Linked DNA regions of Homo sapiens. The protein of the gene in region 2 interacts with the protein of the main gene of each other region in a pairwise test. Each region holds a gene or a part of one and is shown on either strand. Other genes may lie near its edges. The genes, in order: SLC10A6, SLC38A1, PTPN11, SCGB1D1 and PMP22.

The links.
Region 1: the proteins of SLC38A1 (region 2) and SLC10A6 interact in binary tests that used the Homo sapiens proteins (3 or more experiments, as listed by UniProt).
Region 3: the proteins of SLC38A1 (region 2) and PTPN11 interact in a two-hybrid assay, tested with the Homo sapiens proteins (one large-scale study listed by BioGRID and IntAct).
Region 4: the proteins of SLC38A1 (region 2) and SCGB1D1 interact in binary tests that used the Homo sapiens proteins (3 or more experiments, as listed by UniProt).
Region 5: the proteins of SLC38A1 (region 2) and PMP22 interact in binary tests that used the Homo sapiens proteins (3 or more experiments, as listed by UniProt).

Annotation. Positions count from the first base shown.
Region 1 is NC_000004.12:86,839,360-86,842,884, forward strand, and holds part of SLC10A6 (sodium-dependent organic anion transporter), read right to left. Parts: intron 1-3,525. UniProt on the Homo sapiens protein: Transports sulfoconjugated steroid hormones from the extracellular compartment into the cytosol in a sodium-dependent manner without hydrolysis.
Region 2 is NC_000012.12:46,262,530-46,266,054, forward strand, and holds part of SLC38A1 (sodium-coupled neutral amino acid symporter 1), read right to left. Parts: intron 1-3,525. UniProt on the Homo sapiens protein: Symporter that cotransports short-chain neutral amino acids and sodium ions from the extraccellular to the intracellular side of the cell membrane. The transport is elctrogenic, pH dependent and driven by the Na(+) electrochemical gradient.
Region 3 is NC_000012.12:112,449,922-112,453,446, reverse strand, and holds part of PTPN11 (tyrosine-protein phosphatase non-receptor type 11), read right to left. Parts: intron 3,130-3,525; coding exon 2,935-3,129; intron 253-2,934; coding exon 60-252; intron 1-59. UniProt on the Homo sapiens protein: Acts downstream of various receptor and cytoplasmic protein tyrosine kinases to participate in the signal transduction from the cell surface to the nucleus. Positively regulates MAPK signal transduction pathway. Dephosphorylates GAB1, ARHGAP35 and EGFR.
Region 4 is NC_000011.10:62,188,957-62,193,035, reverse strand, and holds the start of SCGB1D1 (secretoglobin family 1D member 1 precursor), read right to left. Parts: upstream 2,821-4,079; 5' UTR 2,752-2,820; coding exon 2,697-2,751; intron 981-2,696; coding exon 793-980; intron 1-792. UniProt on the Homo sapiens protein: May bind androgens and other steroids, may also bind estramustine, a chemotherapeutic agent used for prostate cancer. May be under transcriptional regulation of steroid hormones.
Region 5 is NC_000017.11:15,229,279-15,231,802, forward strand, and holds the end of PMP22 (peripheral myelin protein 22), read right to left. Parts: exon of another isoform or gene 1,803-2,524; coding exon 1,639-1,802; 3' UTR 501-1,638; downstream 1-500. UniProt on the Homo sapiens protein: Might be involved in growth regulation, and in myelinization in the peripheral nervous system.

The DNA.
Region 1 (3,525 bases), on a different chromosome or scaffold from region 2:
AGGATGGCTTGAGCTCAGGAGTTTGAGGCTGCAGTGAGCTATGCTCACACCACAACACTCCAGCTTTGGGGACAGAAGGAGGCCCTGTCTCTAAAAATAAAAAAAGGAACCTTATAATATACCTTACTCTGCAACTTGTTTGCTTTTTTTCCCACTTCATCTATCACAGACATCCTCTCAGACCAATACATTTAAACTTATTCTTTTAAAGAACTGCGAAATATGCCATAATCTAAATATGCCATAATTTCTTCAATCACTTCATTAACCATAGGTCAGTTGCTTTTAGTTTTTTGCCATTATAAATAATGTTATAATAAACACTCTCATACATACTTCACTTGAAATGATTCTTTTCTTTCTGTGAATTCCCAAGGTGGAATTGCTATGTAAAAGTCTGTGTTTTTTGTTTTAATATATACTTTCAGACTACTTTCCAAAAAGATTGCTACATTTCACAATCTTGCCTACTCCGGATGTGATCAGTCCCTTCTAATTGTCATGCCAGCATTGAAAAATTGATCTCACTCTTGTTACACTCTTATTTTTTTTTTTTATTTTTTTTTTTTAGCTGGAGCTCACTCTGTCACCCAGTCTGGAGTGCAGTGGCCTGATCTTGACTCACTGCAAGCTCCGCCTCCCAGGTTCAAGCAATTCTCTCTGCCCCAGCCTCTGGAATAGGTGGGATTACAGGTACCCGCCACCACACCAGGCTAATTTTTTTTTTTTTTTTAATTTTTAGTAGAGATGGGTTTTACCATGTTGGCCAAGCTGGTCTCGAACTCCGGACCTCAGGTGATCCACCCACCTTGGCCTCCCAAAGTGTTGGGATTACAGGCGTGAGCCACTGCACCCAGCCGACACTCTGGATTCTATCAGGTTGTGCTTTCTTTCATGTCAAGTGGCTTCTTCTGTGTCCTCCTCTCTAAACAATCTTGCTTGTCAGACTTCTTCTCAACTTGTAGGAGTTCTTTTAAAATTAGGGCTCATATTACCATGAATAATACAAGTATTTTTTCCAAGCATGGTGTATATCTTTGACTTTGCTTATGACTTGCCATAATTAACATTTATATAGTCAGAGCTGTTTTTTTAATGGCTTCTGAGTTTCTTATCTTAAAGACCTACCCTGATCCGAGGGCATTCAAATATTGTCTTCTACTTTTTACTTTTATGCTTATATTTTCAACTGACTTAAAATTTATATTTTGCATGGTAACAGGTATGAGACTAATCCATTTTTTCTATTAATATATTGAGATGCAAGTGTGTCAATATAATCTACTAAAATAAACCATTTTCCACTATACTGAAGTGTCACCTTTATCATTTATTAAATGCCCAAGTGTACACAAAATATTTTCTGGAAATTCTCTTCTAGCTCATTGATAAATAACTTTCTTTTTTCCTGAACAAATACTAGACTAATTACAGTGTTCTCATATATGGTAGGGCAAATACCTCCACATAAATTTCCCTTTTCAAACTTGTCTTAGCAGTTCTTGCTTATATTTTATTCCATATGAAACCCAAAATTATTTTATCCTATTAAGAATGCTTACTTTAAGCAAAGATTTCTTCCTGACTAGTAGGCAATTTAAAAGAAAAAAAGCAGTTTGCCACAGCTCTCAAACCTCTGTATCCACAAAGAGGCTGTTTAGAAAGTTTTTTCCAAATTCTTAGTCTATGATAGTGCTACATTCCTTGACTCTCCATATTACTAAGTCCTGAATGGAATTCCATATTATATCACTTTACTCTTGAACTTCTGGAGAACCAGCACAACATTTCTCTACTGAATGGCTTTGGCTCAAACAGCAGAAAGGTAAGACTCATGATTATGGGAAGCAAAGTGAGATTTATATCCGACTGATTCTATATCCTTGATTACCTATGTGATTGCTTCCATGTTTATACAATTTTCAAGCCCATGGTGATCATGATATTGGTCAAGGATGGCAAGAGGTTATCCTGGTGCTCTGCCAACTGTTACAAATACCAGCAAAGGTGGAAAAGCACACAGTGAATGCCTGTGAGTACAGTGGAAAGTCACGCCTTGTATTTTTAGCCATGAAATTCCAATGTAGCATAAACAGAGGATGTGGCTAAGTAAGTCTCTTGACTTTTCATGTATAGGAAAATTTTTGGCAAAATCTAACTTCAGTATAACAAGATTCCACTTGCATTGAGAAGAATAGCATCATCATCTCCAAACTATTACAGAAAATAATGAGACATATTCAGCAAGTCTAGACAAACAGGTCAGTCTTGAACCCTCCCTTAAAGCAGGGAAATTACATATATACACATTACATTAAAATGCAGTGTCAATAACATTTTGCAATTGGAGATTAAGTTATTATAAATTGTTTTAATTTCAAAAATCCCATAAAATCAGGAACTCTGACCCTCAAAACTATGAAAGTATACACTTGCTTTCCGACTGAAAGAAATAAAAAATTATCCAGCTAACCAGATGGACACGGAGTGAGCTATAAGATCATACCAACAGATTTGACCCTAGAATAGAGCGTAAGGCCCGATTTTCCATCCCTCAATATAAATGTTACCCTTGTCTGCTGCCTTCCAATAATAATGAGTATTTATTGAGCACTATGTGCTAGGTGTTATGTCTCATGCTTTTATATACATTTTCTCTTTTCATCTACATAATAACTCTATGTGTGAGTATTATTTTCATTGTATAGATAAGGAAATTAAAGTACATAGAGACATGGAAGCTTGCATGAAGTCTCATGAATTCAGTCTCCGTTCTGTCTCCAAAGCCTTAAATGCAAAGGACCTTCAGTTTTCCACCAAGACATGTCAGATAGACCTGAACAATTTGAAGTTCTATTTCCAGGTTCTCTACTGAAGGACTAAGAACTTCTTTAAAGTTCAAAGGTCAAAGTTGGCCACTGAGCTCCACAGGCTCCAACACCACCAGTGGTCAGAATCCTTTGTCTGCAGCTGAGGACATAAATACATCCTTACGGAAGAATGGACCTCTTGTATATATCAAAAGTTCTCAAACAAAGATAGTGGGAGGCCAGGCGTAAGTGGCCCACACCTGTAATCCCAGCACTTTGGAAACCCTAGGTGGGAGGATTGCTTGAGCCCAGGAGTTCAAGACCAGCCTGGGCAACATAGTGAGACCTCATCTCTGTAATAAAAAATAAAAAATTAGCTGGGTATGATGGCGCATGCCTATAGTCCCAGCTGCGCTGCTCAGAAGGCTGAGGTGAGAGGATCACTTGACCCCAGAAGGCCAAGACTTCAGTGAGCCATGATTGTACCACTGCACTCCAGTCTGATGACAGAGTCTAAGACCCTGTCTCAAAAAAAAAAAAAAGAAAAGAAAAGAAAAGAAAAGAAAAGACAAGACAGTGGGAGCTGTCCTGAGTTGCATCAATAAATGGACACCTCTTTTCTTTCTTTCTTTCTTTCTTTCTTTCTTTCTTTCTTTCTTTCTTTCTTTCTTTCTTTCTTTCTTTCTTTCTTTCTTTCTTTCTTTCTTTTTTTTTT
Region 2 (3,525 bases):
CCTGGAATATTTCAGCCCTTGAGAAAAATCTCTTTATTTGCATATATGTTTTTTGTTCTAAAGATATTTCTGATCAAGGATTGCTATTGTACTAAAAAAGATGGATACAGTTTTGTGTGTTTGTTTTTAAGCCCTAGCTAAGTTATGACTCCTAACAAAATACTCAAGGAAAAACAGAAATAATAAGAACTTTAAAGCATCACAAAGTGCTGCATATAAAGAGGATCATTTATAAAAAGAAATCTTAAAAATAGACTTTTATTTGAAAAGAGAAAATGTAATAAAAGACACTATATAATTCAATACCAGATGATGGTTACAGTCTCAGAACAATTCCTTTCTCCTCTCTGGGTCTCTGTCTCCTCACCTTAAAATAAGAAGATTGGATTAATGGCTGCTCTCTCAAAGACCTCTCCCAGTTCTCTGAATTAATGATTCTATACACTATTTCTTAATGAATCACTTCCAAAGATAAGAAGGTGGACTTGTAGACAAATCTCTTGAATAGTTGCCTTTGTAGGCCAATAGGCCTCAGTTCTAACAGGACATTGGAACAAACTGGGGAGCTTTAAAAAAATAAAAGTGATAAGGGGACACTACACACACAACAGTCTCTGACTTAATTGGTATAGGACAGGATCCAAGCATGGTTATTTTAAACGCTCTCCAGAGGAGAGCATTCTTATGTGCAGCCAATGTTAAGATCCCCAGATTGAGAATAAAAGTTAAAACAAAAGAAGCTAGTGCTCAGGTAGGTAAGATAAATGGGCAAAGCAGACTGGGCATAAGGAACTAGAGAACACATGTCCCATCTATTTCCCTCCAACTAGTGGCAGGAATGAGCCTGGTCTTTTTATTTTTATGTTTTTCAATAAATGCCAGAAATCAAAATTCTAAGTGAAATTCTGATATTTAAGAGTTGGCAACTAATTTCAAATAATTTTAAAAGAAAGCGTAAGTCACATAAAATATGCCCACAAGCTTAATTTGGCTCTCTAGCCACCAGTTTGCAACCTAAACAAAACCGGTTCAATAAATTAAACACAGTGTTTTCTCTGTGCTCTGACCTGTCTGTCTCCTGCTCAGAGCCTCTTTCTCCTATACCTTGGTCCATAGCCTATCCCTTTCTTTTTCCTTTCCATTGTCGCTTTCTTTTCCAACCTTCGCCATTCCTAAGAGATGGAAACTGAGATCTACACATTAAATCTTCATGTGGCTCTGGCTGTATCACTGGACAGGCGTCTATGCCTGGGAAAATTCAGGTTATAAACTGTAACCTGAGGCTGTGGCTCCATGATGTCAACAAATGGTTGGTTTAGTAAAATCAGGGGGAAAAGTCAGTCAAGCTCATAATTTCACACTACTAAGACTAAGACTTTGTCAAGCAACATATGGAGGTCCTCATTTAATTTCTGATGTTTGTTTTGTTTTCCTTGCTTTAAATCTAAACCAATGCATATCAAAATCACCCCTGATATTTTCTAAGCTCCCATATTTGGGCTCCATCCCAGGCCAACTAAATCTGAATCTCTGGAGTTGAAGTCTTGGCACTGACAGCTTTTAAAACACCCTAGATGAGTCTAATGTGAAGTCTGCTCTGAGACTCACTAATCTAAAACCATCACCTGACCCTGAAGATTAGCAGCATGCTTAATGCCAGATGACTATCATCTTGAATAGTTTTTTTAAACTTGTTCAAGGACTTTCTCAGCTCTGCTCTCATTGTATCTTCACAACTCTGAGGTACGCAGCACTGATACTATTATTAGCATTGGACAGATGAGAAAATGAGGCATAAAAATGTGAAATGAGTTGCTCAAGGGTACCCAGCTAGTTATTGCCAAAGACACATTGTAACCTCACTTGAAACAGAGTTACTTACTAATAGTAGAGGAATTCAGTGATTGGGAAGGTAACATGGTTAGGGGAACTCCTCTGTTATTAGTAAGGTTATCACTAGAAAACAAATATGTGATCAATTTTCAGAAATAAGTACAACAATATTTTTAAATTTAAAATCTTATTTTAAATCTAGGGTCAGTGTCTTTTTTTAGGTTATTGAAGTTAATCTTTTAATTTTACTTAAAATTTTTTTATTTCAATAGATTTTGGGGTATCAGTGATTTTTGGTGGTTATATAAATGAATTGAAAGTGATGAAATCTGAGACTTTAGTGCACTTGTCATCTGAGTAGTACACATTGTACCCAATCTGTAGCTTTTTATCTGGCATCCTCCCTTCCAACCTCTGGCTTCTGAGTCTCCACAGTCCATTATATTACTCTGTGTGCCTTTGCATACAAGATGTCTTTTTCGAAGTCTGTCACACATTCTTCAAAGTACTTCTGTGCACATACTTCTCCTACCTCCTCACCACCTTTCATAGATGTATATTCTCCCAGAGACTAAAAAGATCCAGGTAGTTTCCATCAAGATATATTTTCAGAAAAGTATTTTTAAAAGATTACATAGTCACAGAATTTCAGAGGTAAAGGGAACTTTACTGATCAACTTTCTCTCCCTCCTCTGGTAGATATGTTTAATTCAATACATATGGAATGCTAACACTATACCAAATACTTCACATTCATTATCTTCATTAAATCTTTACCATCACTCAGTAAAGTGGGTACCACCAACACTACCACCAGCATCATCATTCCCATTTAGCAAAAGAAAAAACTGAGGCTTAGAGATGCCAAACACCTTGCCCAAGATTCCTGGGTGAGTAAGCTGAGGCCTGATATTTATATTTGACTCAGAGCCTAAGCCCCTATTCACCACCTTCCATCACCTGGAGTAACAACAGTCCAAAATGTGAAGGATAAACAAATACTTATGAAAATGCCAGTGAGGTGATCAGTGAACACTTCTCCCAAGAGGTGGAAAAGTGGCATCAGGGATAGGCCATCACAAGTACACAGGATTTCAGTAGGCATTCTGGACTGGAATCCAATCCACACAGATATTGAAGCAGAAAAGTGATAGGGAGGGAATAGGGTGAACTGTGAGAAAGAAAATATCAAGAGAAAAAATTGGAAAGAGATGAGAAGGCAGATTGTGAAGGGTCCTAAGTGTATGGCTAAGGAATTTAGACTGTATTTGTGTGCAATGGAAACCCTCAGAGGTTTTTAAAAGCAAGGTCCTTTAACAAAATGTGAACTGAATTTTAGAAATATAAACCTCATGAAAGAATGGAGATTTAATTAGGGGAGCATAACTTGATATGGAGGAGAGACCAACAGGAAAGCTGTTCCACCTCAGTAACTGGCTGTTTCACTCTTAACCATATGTTGTGCTTGCATTTTTCTCCACCGCCCACTCCCACTGCCCCTAGGTTGTTCAAGGCACCTCTATATCTGTTTCATATGTCTCCAAGTCTAGGTAAGGTGACAGGGACCTGAACTTGGGCAGTGGAAATGGAGACAAGAGGACAAGTGTGAGGGGTATTTTCAAGGGCCTGGTCACTGCTCAAAGTGGGAAGGGCAGTACGAGAAGGAGAAGCAGAGAAGAAAAAGACTCTCAT
Region 3 (3,525 bases), about 66 Mb from region 2:
GCAGAAAAATCACCCAAAGGTAACATCTTGCCAGACCCATTTTTCAACTGGAGATTTACCTGACAGCGAATCATAACATGGGTCACTTTAGACTTGCCGTCATTGCTCTCCCCTTTGTCATCACCAGTGCGCACAGAAAGAACAAAATCTCCAGGGTGGCTCTGGCTCTCTCGTACAAGAAAACTACCATGTTTTCCTTTTTCAGTTAATAATTTCTCTGCTTCTTTCCCAGAGAGATGTCCATGAAACCACCTAAAGTTTTTAAAAAATAAAAAAGAATTTAGCTCTACTATGGGTTCATGTTGTTCTTTCACAAAACTACTGTATACAGTCAGCTCTCCTAAACACAATTAAAAAGTAGACACATTCCTCCAAGGGATTGATCAATCCCACCTGAGACAGAAAATCTGCATCCCATGCAGGCAGGAAAAACCACAAAGATGGTAAGAATGACCACTAAACTTCTTAAATGAGTCCACAGTCCTTTAGAGACAAATGCCCCAATCTTTCCTGTTTTTTTTTAAATCCCTCCTCTTTTAAAAATGCAATTTGCCATTCGTCCATTGCCCAATCTTAAAAGGACCAACTGTTTAATTATAGCCATTTAAAGAAGTTACAGGCCATGCATAGTGGCTTATGCCTGTAATCCCAACACTTTGGAAGGCCAAGGCAGGAAGATCACTTGAGGCCAGGAGTTCAAGACCAGTCTGGGCAACACAGTGAAATCCCCATCTTCACAAAACAATTAAAAATTAGCCTGGCATGGTGGCAACTGCCTGTAATCCCAGCTATACACAAGGCCGAGGCAGGAGGATCACTTGAGTCCAGGAGGTCGAGGCTGCAGTGCGCTATGATCATGCCACCGCACTCCAGCTTGGGTGACAGAGCAAGACCCTGTCTCAAGAAAAAAAAATAAAAGTCGGCCGGACGTGGTGGCTCATGCCTGTAATCCCAACACTTTGGGAGGCCGAGGCAGGTGGATCACCTGAGGTCAAGAATTCGAGACCAGCCTGACCAACATGGTGAAACCCTGTCTCTGCTAAAAATACAAAATTGGCCGGGTGTGGTGGCAAGTGCCTGTAATCCCAGCTACTCAGGAGGCTGAGGCAGGAGAATCACTTGAACCTGGGAGGCGGAGGTTGCAGTGAGCTGAGATCGCACCATTGCACTCCAGCCTGGGTGACGAGCGAAACTCCATCTCAAAAAAAATAAATAAATAATTTGTAAAAATAAAGTCAAAATAAAGAAGTTGTAATAAAAAGTTGTAATAGAGACAGGCACGGTGGCTCACGCCTATAATCCCAGCACTTTGAGAGGTCAAGGTGGGCGGATCACCTGAGTTCAGGAGTTTGAGACCAGCCTGGCAAACATGACAAAACCCTGTCTCTACTAAAAATACAAAAATTAACTGGGCATGGTGGCACATGCCTGTAGTCCCAGCTACTCGGGAGGCTGAGGCAAGAGAATTACTTGAATCTGGGAGGCGGAGGTTGTAGTGAGCCGAGATCGCGTCACTTGACTCCAGCCTGGGTGACAGAGTGAGACTCCATCTCAAATAAATAAATTAAAAAAAAGAAAGAAAAAGTTGTAACAGAGACAGAAAATCATTTTGAATGTTTGTCCTTGCCTTGGCATGTGAACACTCAATTAAAAAGGATCTTCATTATAAATTAATTCAAACATTCCAACCTTTTCCATATATACAACCTATACTTCAACAGCCTCCAGTGTCTTTGGACTATATCCTGGGTGATCATCTCAAACTGTATAATGCACATAAGACTTGGAGTAAAAATGAGGGATTTTGCTAAAAATATGAATTCCCAGGCTCCACAACCAGCAATATCAATACATGTAAGTCTGAATGAGGCCCAGGAATCTGCATTTTAACCAGCACATCAGACAGTCCTGATGTAGGCATCCAAAGCCATCCAAGGACAGACTTTGAGACAATACTGCTCCATGTTTTTTGGGAAGCATCTTAACATAGTTCTAATAATAAAGTGGCTTTTTCCCTCAGGATCTTGGTCAGAAAGCAAGTACTATCATGGCAGGTGGTGTTAAGGGCTCATCATCAAAAGAATAAACTTTGAGTTATTCTTCATCCATACTCAACTGAAAACAGTAAAATTTAGAAATAAACTGTACAGAGTTGGCTGACAGCCTTTTGCCTGAAGCTACGGTGGTAGCTAGAGAAACAAATTATCAGCACATAATAGCACTGACATAAAGGTATAAGCTGAAAAAATCATACCTGAAGACACAAAATATACAAACTAACTAAGAGATCCTGAATTTGCACCAAGTCAGAGAGGAGATTGGGAATGTACAAAACGAATACAATCAATAAATAAGTCAAGCCCATGCTTTCATCAGCCTAGTTCCAACACAGGGGGAAAGATCTCGAAAATAACATAATTTTCTCTAAGCAAGGTCATTCTCACATAATTGTGGTGATAACATTAAAAGAACTGATGAAAAAGCTGACCCTCTGAGCTCTCTGCTTTTCCACTTCTGAGCTTAAACTGACATCTGTTGGTGACATTGCTGAATAACTGGTCGAGAGCCACCATAGAAAACTGCTGCTATTTTGGTGTCTCCATTATCATTTGTTTTCCTCTAATAACTCTCAAAGATTATCTGCTGAAGTTCAATAAGTCTTAAAACTAATACACGTACCAAGTATATGCAGGAATGGTATGCAACCCCTATAGGATGAGTGTAAGTAACACTGATTAAAACTTTTGCAGGAAAAAGGTACTCTGAAAATAATTTGATGCTATTAGTCTCACTTTAGTAATTCTTTAAAGATTACAGCTCAAAAAACAGTCACAAGCCTTTGGAGTCAGAGAGTCATACACAGACCGTCATGCATTTCTGACACTCAGGGCACAAGGGAGCAGCAGACTTTGTGGTCACTAAAATGTTACTGACCTTTCAGAGGTAGGATCTGCACAGTTCAGAGGATATTTAAGCTCAATGACATCTCCATTCTTCTCTTTTAATTGCCCGTGATGTTCCATGTAATACTGGACCAACTCAGCCAAAGTGGCAAATTTCTCCCCTCCATACAGGTCATAGTAATCACCAGTGTTCTGAATCTTGATGTGGGTGACAGCTCCATTTCTTCTAAAATAGTCCATTGGAAAGGGAGGCAAGGGGACAAATAAAGAGTTACACCAGTAAAATCAGATCTCATCTTCCACGTCGGATTTTACCTAAGTGTTGAAAGAAACCCAAGGAACGAATTTACCTATTCCCTATAAGAAATACGATGGGTGAAATAACCACATGTCAACCAACTCAACACAAAGGTCTTTATTAGTATCTTTACCTTGCATATCTTTTTTTTTTTTTTTTGAGATGGAGTTTCGCTCTTATTGCCCAGGCTGGAGTGCAATGACGTGATCTCGGTTCACCGCAACCTTCGCGGTGGATTTACATACATTATAAATCCAGGTTCAAGTGATTCTCCTACCTCAGCCTCCCAAGAAGCTGGGATTACAGGAATGCGCCACCACGCTC
Region 4 (4,079 bases), on a different chromosome or scaffold from region 2:
AGGAGACTCCAGCCTCCCCATGTGGGAATTCTGCCTCAGGGCCTGAGCACCTCAATCCTGAGCCTGCAGCTTCCATGAGCATTTGCAGCTAAACCTCAGGACAGCAACCCAGAGGCAGCCAGGCTGAGAGGCCCCTGGAAAACCTCTGATTTCTTGAGAAAGACAGAGTGAGAACATCCCGCTTCCATGGCACTGCAGGAGGTAGAGTAGCGAGGGTCTTGGCCCACTGGCCGTGGTCAGGAGAGCATCGTGGGTGAGGAGGGGAGCGTGGAGTCTGAGGAGCTGGGAGGGGCTCCTTCCTGGTTCTGCAGAAGCTGCAGAGAAGTCCAGCCCTCCAGCGCAGCATCTGCAGGAGCCCCTGCTCTAGGTCCCTCCCTGCCTTCTTCTCCCTGTTCAAGGCTCCCACACTCCCCAGTACATTCCACAGTGACTGTGTGAGGTCCACTTGGCCTCAGGAAAGTCCCCAGGTGGAGAGACAGTTGTGCTTGGCCCTTCACCACCCCTGCCTGGACCCAGGCTCACTCCCCATGTCCTCAGCACACTCTGGGGACACGGCATCCAGGTAGGTGACCTGAGAAGGAGGAACATGCAGGAGGCTGTGTGCAGCTGAGTTGAATTCTGCAGGTGAAATGGTAGCACCCACCCTGTGGTCCCAGGTGACCTTCTCAAGCGGTGACCAGTAAGGCAGGTGCCCCACCACCTGTGTCCCTCACAGAGCAGCAAGCAAGCTGACCTCACTTCACACTGTGCCGCTGACCAGAAGCCTGGACACATGAAAGAGACAGAAATTACCAATGTTTTTGTAATTAGCACTCTTTTCTCATAGGCCATCGTATCCACGCATTTCTTCACTTCCATCTTGGCTGCAACAGCTTCCAGAGGTGCCTTAAATTTGGCAAGTTGGAACTTGAACACAGGTTTTCCAGCTAATAAGAAGCCTGTGATTTCAGAACCAAGAGCTTGGCAGACCACTGCATTTGCTGGAGCAAAAGAATAAAAATATAATTTGTGTAAGGAAATCAGTGTTTCTCCCATGCCTCCCTGATGTCAGACCAGACAGGAACCCCAGGGTTTTAGGCTTCTATTCAATAACTATGCCAATGACAATGTCAGACCCAGGAGGTTGTGACTTCCTTGAGGTCACACAGCAAAGGGTAGAGCTAGAACTGGAGAACCAACTTCCTGATCACTCATTCAGTCTTTGTTTTTTTTTTAAAGCACACTCATTACTTTCCAAAGCTTCTCTGGATGGATGGCCAACGTTCTCTTTTCTAGATTTGAAAATAATCACTTTTCTATGCCAGTTAAGTGACACTTTATTAGTCTTGGACATTGGTGAAGAGGAGGCTTTGAGTAATCAAATTTTGAAGTGGAATGGTAGAGTCAGAATCCTATCAGAAATTAGAGAAATGAGTAAATCTGGAACAGAAGAAGTTAAAATTATTGAAATGTTGAAGGTGATGTTTTGAGAACAAGTTGTAGAATTTAGGCTTATGTGATTCAATACAGACAGAGCTAAAAGGTAAACAAATTAAAACAAAATAAAATAATGTGAATCAGTTTTAACACACATTAGAAGCTTATACAGGAAATTGTACTTGGCCCATATTCTGCAGCAGCATCTAGAATATTTGGAGAGGATGAGAGGAGGGAACTGAGGCTCATTCCTGCTCCCACTGGGAATTTTGGAAAGACCTGGAGTAATCATTTTGCTTGGTCTGGAATCTCCATTCACCTAAGTCTTTTGCAAACACCATGCATCCAGAAAGCGCCCCACCATGCTCAACATGACCCCTGACTACCCGACTTCAAACTGTGGGGAGAATTTGGAGAGGGTAGGATCGGGGTGTCACAGGGAAACAGGGAGAGGTTCAGAAAAGAAGAGGAAAGAGAAAAATCAGAGTCTGGATCGGTCCTGACAGGGGAAAGGAAAGTACCCAAATGAACTGGGGAAAAATCAGCCAGAATTAATTTTAGAAAAATAGAAGTTCTGAGGCTAACCATTGTAGTATTTCTACCACCATTACGGTAGGACCCCTAGAAGATATATTGAGTGCTGCTTATTCTAAGAATTCATTTGCAGGCTTCTTATTGAGAGAATCAGAAAGCACCATCTCTTCTTGGACTGAGAGTTCTCCAAGGATCCTTCGAGATGTAACATTTTATGAGTCTGAATTTACAATGTAAGAAGCTGTGAGCTCAATTGGCACCTAAAGGTCTGGGGACGAGAATGTCTGACAGTACAGTGATTGGCTTCACATCCACAGCTAGACCCTTGGCACAATAATCCCACTCCATTCCCATTGCCACTCCCGGAAGAAGCTCTAAGCACCAGAGATAGGAGGAGGCGCGGGGAGGGTGAGCATCTTGCCCACGGTGAAAGGGCTGAGAAGTGGCTGAGCCCAGAGTCACCCCAGACCTCACATTACATCATCTGACACAGATCCCATCCAAGAGTGAAGCTCAGGCAGAATTCCTAACGTTCGCCTGCATTGATTTTCTGCAAAACTTCCTAGGTACTGGGGATTTGATGAAATGAGGCCCGAGCTTTATGAGCAGTTCCTTCAACAAGCACAGGATAAGGTTTGGAATTTTGGTTTGTTCCAGACCCCAACCTTAACCTTAATAGGTGACCTCGTGCTCAGAGAAGGGTGTGTCCCAAGGGCTGGTGCTGGACTCATGACTGATGTACTCACCCCGGTAGCAGCAAAGGGCCAGCGTGAGCAGCAGGAGACACACCGACAGCCTCATGGTGGCTTATTCTGCTGTGAGCTCGGCTTTAACCAATGATGAGTGATTTAGACTCAGCCCCGGGAGCCTGTGGAGCCGTGGAGCCCAGGGCTATTTGTACCTAGGGAGCCTGGCTGGTCCTGCCCACATGGGCATCTGGCAGGTGATGAGGCCTGGCTTCCAGCCCTCCCTTCCTAGCCAGGGCTGCTGCCATCCATCAGTGTCACATCCCCACACCTCCCTGCATCCTGAGTGGGGCGGAGCACGGGAGGGCAGCCCTGCAGAAACTCTGCTCTGTGCTCCAGGTGAGTGTCCAGGTGCCTCTGGCAATGTTCCCTGGAACCTCAGTTTGCTTTTGGGCTTTTGAGGATTATCTCTCTGTTCTTTATGTCAGTGCAAGGGCAAATGTGAGTTCTCATTTCAGGAGGACAGAAACCGGGGGTGCAGGAAGCTAGGGGCTGTGGTTTGGTTATAGGAGAGCAGGCACAGAAGAGACCCCACTTTGACCTCCACTGCATGTCTGACAATCAGCCACACGTGTTTCAGCTGCACATAGATCAAGTCTGAACCAGACCTATCCTCCCACTCAGCCCCTTCCATCCCCACCATCTTCACCACATAGGTACCTAAAACATAGCTGCATACACCCCACCTTTGGAGGATTTCCTTGGGGAAAACAACCACTCCCCCTGTCCTCTACTCTGTCTCACTCCAAGATCTGTGTCTTTATTTATGGGTGGAGTTGTCAACATAGCACAGGTTCAAATTTTCTGTCTACTAAAAGCAAGCCTCCAGTGACCTCTAGCCACCCATATCTCCTCATAGGGCTGATGGGATGATTAAATTGCCCAACTTTTTTTACCCAAGGAGCTGCTGGGGTGTCTGGAGGCAAACAGGCATCAGAAATACTGGTCTTCGCTTCTAGGCAGGGACGATAATGGAAAGGAAGAGATGGATGAACAGGGTGGGTGGTCACTTCCCTCTAACCTCTGGGCTCAAGTTTTCCACTTCTAACCCAGCTCTGCTGCCTGGGTCATCTCATTGTTGATGGAAAGCGAAGGCCATCCCCAGCAAAAGCAATAGACACCCTTCTGCCCTTCCACTGCAGTGCCATCATTTGGTGAGTAGGAAATCACCAGAAATTTGGCTCTTAAGTGAACACACATTTGAGAACAGTCACAGCCCAGGCCAGAGCTTTCCATTCTCTGCTCTGCAATCAAATCACTTGGGGCTCTTAAACTATACTGACTCCCCGCAGGCTGCTTCCCTTTCTGGGGATTTTGATTCAGTAGTTCTAGGGCGAGGTCCTCTTCTGTTTAAACTGCTCTGGTGGGTCTGATGGGCAGCAG
Region 5 (2,524 bases), on a different chromosome or scaffold from region 2:
TTCTCTCCTTCAGGATGGCATTAGGAGCTTAGTTGGTGCCAACCAATGTTTTATCTGCAAGTGTGGCCTCAAGTCACCATCATTCAGACCTTTCACCATATCATACCTCAGGGTGAGGGATCTGAGATGCTTCTGCCAACATTCCCAGTATATCAGGGCAGCTCATGACATGCCTCCATGTTTTCCATGTGGGTCATCAAACAACAGAGCACCAGAGAGGGTTGAACTAAATGAATACTCAAGTGCCTTCCAGTCCATTTACAGCCTCCATTTCAGCTGCAATTCCCAACTGTCTCCAATTAGCAAACCTTTGCACAGACATCATGAAGGCATCATGTGCTCCCTGTAGCTTGTAAAACAGCTATGATTTTGGTGCCTTAGCACCATCTTGTAACCCAAATCTCCAGCTCAACTTTGCTTTCCACTGAAGCTCTTCATCCTGCTCCAACAGGCACCTTGTACCCACACCCAAGTTCCCACAAAAACTCAAGAGAGACCAGTGAGTTACTCTGATGTTTATTTTAATGCATCTTAGTCCACACAGTTGGTATAAAATCAGAAAATGCAAAGCAAAAACAAAAGGTCTGGAGTCTTAGCATCAGAAGGGCACCATATATACATCTACAGTTGGTGGCCAATACAAGTCATTGCCAGACAGTCCTTGGAGGCACAGAACAGCCTAGACCCAGCCAAGCTCTAGGAACTCACGGTCCCAAGGAGTCTAGACGCTTGTTCTGATGCTCCGACCGTAAGAAAAATGTGGGAGTGATGAAGGCTTTATGATTTACTCATTATAGTAATAATAGCAGCCTAGCTAGGTACAAAAGCAGTTATAAACCATTTATATTACACAGAATTATTCAGGTCTCCATTCTATCTTATGTTGTAAAATTGTTAATTGGATTTCCAGTGAGTTGTTTAGATGATTAGTGATAATAAGGAATGGTAAATCCATAGCACCATTTCAAAGACTTGTTGTCACTGATTTCTCATTTAGATGTGTGACGAAGATACTCCACCTGTAAGGGCAAGTATGCCAATGCCACAAGCCGTGTTTTTGCAAGGGCTCCAGTTTGGGCATTTTGTCCGTGTGCGCGTAAAGCTTCACACAGAGGTTCGGGCAGCGGCTGTTTCTGTTGGATGCACTGGGTCACCCACCAGAAAAGGGCTTTTGGACATTTGGGGTTTCTACCCACACTTTGGTTTTCTAAATGAGGTGGACTGGGAGGGAGGTATCTTCTTTCAGATGAAAGGGAAGGGGCGAGATGGAGTTATCTTATTTCTGGGTAAAACAAAACAAACAAACAAAAAACAAAACAAAAATACTGAGCTGGATTATACTGTTAGGATGTAAAGTTCCTTAGCTACTTCTTTAAGGCTCAACACGAGGCTGATGGTCAACATAAAAAGCAAACAATACTATGTACATATATGTAAAAAGTGTTATAAATAGGTTTTATAAACCGGAGATATTATATACATCTTCAATCAACAGCAACCCCCACCTCCACTGCTTTCTGTTTGGTTTGGTTTGAGTTTGGGATTTTGGGCTAGCTCTTTTTTCTTTGTCTGCTTTCTGTTTTCCCTTCCTCCCTTCCCTATGTACGCTCAGAGCCTCAGACAGACCGTCTGGGCGCCTCATTCGCGTTTCCGCAAGATCACATAGATGACACCGCTGAGAAGGGCCAGGGGGAAGGCCACCCAGGCCAGGATGTAGGCGAAACCGTAGGAGTAATCCGAGTTGAGATGCCACTCCGGGTGCCTCACCGTGTAGATGGCCGCAGCACTCATCACGCACAGACCTGGGGAAGGAGAGGGACAAGCTGGGTGACGGAGAGTCCATGGCAGAGCGGCCCCCTCTCCGCCACCCCGGATGCTGACAATTGCTGGGTAGGAAGAACATTTCTACCTCTGGAAGGAAATCTGCTTCCAGGTCCAGAATTGAAAGGAGGTAGCACAAAAATATGGGAACAAGGAAAACAACTTGCTCTCTATTTCCAATCTTGGCCACCTAGGCCTTAATACCTGAGGGTTTTCTTTACATTTTCTGCCCTATTTCTCTTTCTTTCACTGTCACCAATTCCCAGGCCACACTACATGGCCAGCAGGCATTCAGGCTGCAAGAAAAACCTACCTGTCTCTTTCCAAGGGTGGTTGGGTATGGAAACCCCTGGAAATCTATATGCCACTCTACAAGTGAGTGGTGGCATTACCTAAAGCCAATGGAAGTGAAGTGACATTTTACCATTATTGGAGTCACGCCATGGTAAAAGGATTAAGCTCCATGCAGACCACAGGGGCCTATGGTCCCCCTAACAGAGTTGCCACATACCAGGTGAAGCAAGCAATGCCTATGGGCACTGCCAAACAGACAAAGAAATGTGTGGAGAGGGAAAAAGAAAGTGAGGAATAAGGATGCAGCCGACAGTATGACTGGGAAGCCACGCTGCAGAGGGGGAAGATGATCAAAGGCAAGCTCCATTTCCCTGGGTGCCCCAAGGTTGCATTTGAAGCCCAAAGAAGG